2 linked regions of the Homo sapiens genome follow. The protein of the gene in region 2 purifies or fractionates together with the protein of the main gene of each other region. This does not show direct contact. Each region holds a gene or a part of one and is shown on either strand. Other genes may lie near its edges.

The links. Proteins that work in one complex are often made in the same cells at the same time.
Region 1: the proteins of KIF18A (region 2) and GKAP1 purify together in Homo sapiens (affinity purification with mass spectrometry; one large-scale study listed by BioGRID and IntAct). This does not show direct contact.

What each region holds. Positions count from the first base shown.
Region 1 is NC_000009.12:83,738,710-83,741,847, forward strand, and holds the end of GKAP1 (G kinase-anchoring protein 1), read right to left. Parts: intron 1,036-3,138; coding exon 988-1,035; 3' UTR 716-987; downstream 1-715. UniProt on the Homo sapiens protein: Regulates insulin-dependent IRS1 tyrosine phosphorylation in adipocytes by modulating the availability of IRS1 to IR tyrosine kinase. Its association with IRS1 is required for insulin-induced translocation of SLC2A4 to the cell membrane.
Region 2 is NC_000011.10:28,024,489-28,028,302, forward strand, and holds part of KIF18A (kinesin-like protein KIF18A), read right to left. Parts: intron 1-3,814.

The DNA.
Region 1 (3,138 bases), on a different chromosome or scaffold from region 2:
TCCTACCGCTGCCTCCTAAAGTGCTGGGATTACAGGCATGAGCCACCATTCCCAGCCCACAGACTGTTTTTCATTCTGCCTGCCTGGACCGCCTGTCAATAAATTTACAGAAAAAATATCTACCCTTTAAAAGCTATTTCATGCAAGTTTTCTCCATCTCCAAACAATGTGATTTCACACTCTACTATCTATGGTAATTATTTTTTGCTCTTGTTTTACCCACCCCCACCTTTTTTTTTTTTTTTTTTTTTTTGAGACAGAGTCTCTCTGTGTCACCCAGCTCACTACAACCTCTGACTCCGAGGTTCAAGCGATTCTCCTGCCTCAGCCTCCCGAGTAGCTGGGATTACAGGCGCACACCACCATGCCTAGCTAATTTTTATATTTTTAGTAGAGACGGGGTTTCACCATGTTGGCCAGGCTGCTCTCAAACTCCTGGCCTCAAGTGATCTGCCCACCTTGGCCTCCCAAAGTGCTGGGGTTACAGGTGTTAGCCACCACACCCGGCCTAACCACTCCCACCTTCTACTTCCCCCAAGCATAAGCTATTTGAGGGTATCAGCCATATTTCATCTTGCATGTCCTGCAGGGTTTAGTGTGCAGAAAGTGCTGAGAAAATTTTCACTGAACTGAAAGGACCCAACTGATTGGCTGTGCTGTAAGCAAAAATACTTTCATTTCATGTTTCTGAAACTTAACAAATCAAACATATTAGTGGAAGAGTAAATTAATTTTATTGACTGATGAAAAACTAAAGTGATAAGAAGTATGGATAGTAGACAACCACTGAATTCTGCTGGAATTCTCTATTTCTTCTTTTTCACTTTAAGCCAAAAGAAATAAAATTATAGACCATTAGGGAGCTAGTTGCTTTTAGTTCCTTCAAGAAAAACTGCATAGTTTAGCAGTTGCACAGCATTAAATATATACAACTTTGCAAAATCCTGGAAGTTTTAAACTTTGTGTTGACTTCAAAGGCTAATGTAATCACCTACACTGGTCGGATTCAGAGTTTCTTTTCCCTTTTCTGCCACCCTGTAAAAAAAAAAAAAAATAGGGAAAATTATTTACAACATACCATTTTGGGACCACTTCATTTAAAAAATATAGACCAAAGGCATCTTGGGGTATGAGAAGGAAGCAATTTCTTTTTTGATTTTGTTGTAAATTTGAGTCTACATACTGTTACATTATTTTAATATGGTTATTTTTTATAAATGGTTAAGGTTGGTTTTAGAAAAGTTACTTCTATTTGAATAAGAGTCTTGCCTTAGTAAGCTCACCGATATCTTATTTTTTTAGAACTCATTTTGACTGTTCTAGAATTAAAAATAAAGTTTTTGATCAATACTAAAATAAACAGTACACTTAAATTTGTTCCATATGATCAGCAAATTTAGTAATTCAGTTCATTACCTTTTGGGTAATTCAATTTATAATTCAAGTTCTGTTGCGTTTTGCTCACATTAGCATTAGAAATTTGATTTTGTTCATTAGTGGATTGAAAACTAGGTTATGCTTTTCATATTGCTTAGTTGCATATATAAATTTGTATTTAATTTGCTCCATATGAAACATCATTTGTGGTATTTGACTTGAGCCAAAGCAAAGGAAAGGCAGCATAAAGGACAAGAAGGGTTTTACATAAATATTTTAACATAACATAACATAACATAACATTTTCTGTTTTATTCTGATTTAAAAAACATTCATTATAGAAATATGGAAAGTACAAACATGCAAAGAATAAAATTAAAATCATCAATAGCTACTCTACCCCCTTCAATTTAACCATAAATAATGGTTTAATGTATTTACTTTATAATAGTTGTATGTATAGTTTTTCCCATTTTTATAAAACTATGGCAATGGTGTCCAAACTTAGTTGATCATCAGAATTACCTAAGCAGTAATATTTTTAGAATTCTGACATCTAGGCTTTGTCCCACACCTATTTAATTGGCTAACAATCTTTAATTCAAAGTTTCCAAGTGATTCCAATGATCAGCCAAGTTTGGGAACTACCTTTTCTGTGGAAGTGCATCTCTTAAAGAGAGGTGGTTGTATCAGGGGCATATGGAGCTCAGACTCATTTGATAATGATGGCAGTTTCTCTTTGTTTCTTTCATTCTTTTTCTGACTATAATAACCATTTCAACATCAACATTATAAAACAAAATGAAACAATACTCGCACATAAGAATGCTGTCATTCACTCCTGACCATATAAAAATTTTGCCAATATTTATTCAGAGAAAAACAGTATGAATAGGTTTTTTGGAACAGGAGATGTGTAATGACATGTATTAAAAACAAGATTTATTTCCAGTTAGCAGAAAAATAAAAATAAACTTAGCAAAAATATTTTTTGAAATAGATACCCACCCACTATACATAAAACTCCTACCATGCTTCTCGATGAGATTTCTTAAAAATCCAAAACAACAAACACACAAGAATCTTTTCAAGGTATCCCAGGTAAAGGGAATTCTCTTTCTAGGACTGATTCAATTTTAAAGCCACGGCTAATCAACTGCTATGTTCTCCACACCATGAGTGGCTTTTGAGATTTTTTGGCTATGATTCCAGTTAATGTATTTTATATTATGATTTAGAAACACATATATATACACACACATAAATATATCTCTCACACACACACACACACACACACACACACACAAAAGCACTGGTATTTTTAATTGCTTCATCCTGGAACAAACTGCTCAATGCTAGCTTGTAAATGCAGAAGAAATGATAGAGTTAGAAAATCACTATTTTGCAATCACAAAAAAAGGCACAAATATCAATGGATGCTAAAGCCACTAGATGAAAAGGGTATTCATACAATCTTAAAGTATCACCTCACATATTAATTATAAAAGGGAAAATATATATTTACAATGGAGATATCTAGGAGATATCACTGTATCCAAGTGATCAACCTTATAAACAGGACAATTGTCCTTTTGTGCCTTTCCCCAATATGATTCAATGGCATGTATGCTGTATCATCTATGTAGTACCAAGAATTTTCCTGAATTATGCTAGTTATTGCTGTATATACCAATGTCTAGAATAACATCTTCTACATTGTAAATTATATGACCGATAATAAAATTATCAATATATTTAGTG
Region 2 (3,814 bases):
ACAAGTAAACAAGGCACAAAAATCCCTGTCCTAAAAACTTATAGAATAGACATACAGTGGAGATGAGAAAAAAATAAGATAAATACATGAAATAATATAAGGTAAAGTAAAAATATAGTGCCAAGGTTTCCATAATACAAGGAGCTATAGATTCTTGAGTGTAGAGTAAGAAAGAATAATGGAAATTTTGTGGATGCAATGAATTTGATCTGGGTCCTGAAAAACAGCAATCCTTCCTAGTCCTAAAGAGGATCAATTTTTAACAGGTAGGATTGGGGGGGGTTGGGTGGAAAAAGAACATCCTTCCACGCTGATTCAAACAACCTAAGCTTAGGGAAATTCTGGCTAATAAAGATACTATATAGTAATCCCCCTTATCGACGGGGGGGATATCTTCTAAGATCGCCAGTGGATGCCTGCAACCGAGGATAGTATCAAACCGGATATATACTATGTATTCTCCTACACATATCTATGATAAAGTTTAAATTATAAATTAGGCACAGTAAGAGATTAACAATAATAATAAAATAGAGCAATTATAATTATAATTATTATAAGGTTATGTGAATGTGGTCTCGCTCTCTATTAAAATATCTTATTGTTCTACAATCGCCTGTTTTTGAACTGCGGTTGACCATGGGTAACTGAAACCACAGAAAGCAAAACTTGAATAAGGGGTGACTACTCAGTGGAAGTAATGAAAATGACACAGTTTAAGAAGATAAAATCACAAATTTGTATGCACAAATATTATATCAACTACAGTAGTCCCCACTTCTTAAATGGTGATAAATTACTATGATTCTGTTTTGCATATTAAACACACTTTTGTATATATCAGCTGTCCAAGGCAGAAATTCTTTTTTGATCATTTGGTGATTTTATTTTTTCAAATATAAAGATCAATATTATTAGTTACTTTTGATAAAACATTGTTTTTTCTTAAATTTATCCCAAAGTTGTCTTTATTATTTCATAGTACGATTATGCATTATGGCTAGTTCCAGGACCCTACTTTTTACTCATAGCATGTTCTTTCTTGAAAATTAGGCTTTTGAATAAAGCCATTTGATTAGAACTCATATTTCTAGAAATCAAATCCAACCCTAATAAATTGCGTATTTATATAAAAGTAAAATATACCCAAACATGTTTACGATTTAGTTAAATAGTCCACTGATGAAATGTTTAACATTTATGTTGTAGGTCATAAACTACAAAGACTTAAAACTGATGAGCGCAAGTTCAAATTATGTTAAAGGCTATACTGAAAAATCCAAAGACACTTCCAGTTGTGCACAAAACATATTCCCATAACTATAAATAAAGTTAAGAATTAACCTTTTGCTCCCTTATATAGGTAGAATGTTTCTACTCAACATAATACCTCTTCTACTATTTTATCTGAAATAATTTCTAGTTGAAATAATTAGACATCTTTCAAAACAAAATAAAAGTGTATGGCAAATATGAAACTGCTTTGGGGTGCTCAGAAGATTGTGGACAAACAAAAAACCAATCAACCAAACAAATACAAAACAAACAATCCAAAACTCTGATTAATATAATTGAGAAGTAAAAGCTAACATTATGTATGCATTATATTTAAATATTTGATAGGCTAATCAATTTAGTAAAATAGTGTGCTAGAGAAATATTAAATAAATTGTTAAGATTAAAAATCTAATATACTCAATTATTTAAACAAATCTGTTGGGTAGGTTTTGGAATATCCAGTGCTTTCAAACTCTAATGCCATTTTATGCAAAATAAATGAAATACATATATAGAGAGCTTCCCCTTCTTTATTTTAAAAACTATATTAGAATATATACACAACTAAATATGTATATAAAGCTGCTAAATGGAAAATACCACAGTTTATTACTCTGAAGCGCATGTAACTTTAATTGGGGAAAAAGAAGATTAAAAAAAGTAATCATGTACATTTCTAGCATTAATCTCTTTTAACCTTAGTTAATGGCAGGATCTAATTACTGGTACCAGAGGGAATGTAATAGAACAATTAATAGGCTATAAGAAATCAAGTTACTTTCTTTACATGTCCTTTAATATTATTTCACAATATTAGTTGTTCATGTGGAAGCCCTTTAACTTATCTAAAATCACTCCAAATACACAATTCACATACCTGGACATTTCCTGAAAAACTATTTGATTTTATAATAGCTAAGTTCATATTTAAAAATTATTCTTATCTATAAACATTTGTGACATCTTAGTAAACACAACATACTACCAGTGAAGGACAAGAAAACTCACTAAAATTAATTAATGGAACAAATGACAAAACTGACACTATGCAAATTAGTGATAAAAGTAGACGAAACAGATGATTGTGGTTAGCTAGGCTCACTCATAAAGTGACAGACTTCTGTATATAAACCAGAATAATTGTACAAATCAAATTTGTACCTTAGCAAATATAAAATTTTAAATGTCATAGATGAGACATTTAGGAAAAATCCATAAATTTTAAATTTACACATTCCAAGTCTCTGTTATACTTTGTTTAGGAGGGACAAGGACAGATATTAAATTCACTTATGAGAAGATACTCTATGTAGCACAAATAAGTAGGCTACTTGTAAATTCGCTTCCTGTTACTTAAATGATAACAGGCTCCTGGTGGAAAATACATTTAAAAAGAGTCATTTTAAGGTCTTCTATAAACTTTTCTCCCCATAATCACATAGCAAAGAAAAAGAGGTAGAGGAAGTCAGATCCATTTTATATTTATTGAGTATATTTGTCATTGCATTCAATTTATAGGATATAAAGAATGCATCATGAACTTCTAGTCATATAACTCAATATATTTAAGATTTTTCCTTATCTTTAGTTTTTAGTTGTTTTACTACTATATACCTAGGTATGTTTCTCTTTATATTAACCCGGCTTTTGGTTTGCAGTGCTACTCAAATCCATGGTTTAATGTCTTTTGTTAGTTTTGAATAAGTATTAGCCATCATCTCAAATATTACTTTTCCCTATTCTTTCTCTCACTCCCTTCTGAGACACAAAATACATATTTTCTAGACTTTTAAAAATTGTGTCCCATGTCTCTTTCACTTCTTCCCATATTTTTATCATACTGCACATCAGTTTGGATATTTTCCTACCAGTCTATCTTTCAGAAAAAATTCCAAAACCTGAACAAATGAATAATAAGTAACAAAATCAAAGTCATAATAAAGTCTCCCAGCAAAGAAAAGCTTGGAATTTGATGGCTTCACTGCTGATTTTTACCAAACATTTAAAAAAGAACCAATACCAATCTTACTCAAACTATTCTGAAAAACAGAGGCGGAAGGAATACTTCCAAAATCATTATATGAGGCCAGTATTACTCTGATACCAAAACCAGACAAGGACACATCAAAACAAGAAAACTCCAGGCCAATATCCCTGATGAACACATGCACAAATCCTTAACAAAATACTAGCAAACTGAATCCAATAACAAACCTGAAAGATCATTCATCATGGCCAAGTGGGATTTATCCCAGGGATGCAAGATGGTTCAACATATGCAAATTAACCAATGTGATACATTGTATCAATAGAATGAAGAACAAAAACCATATGATCATTTCAATAGATGCTGAAAAAGTATTTGATAAAATTCAACATCCCTTTATGATAAAAACTCTCACCAAGCGGACTTAATAGACGTCTACAGAACTCTCCACCCACAATCAACAGAATATACATTCTTTTCAGCACCACACTGCACTTATTCCAAAATTGACCACATAGTTGGAAGTAAAGCACTCCTCAGCAAATATAA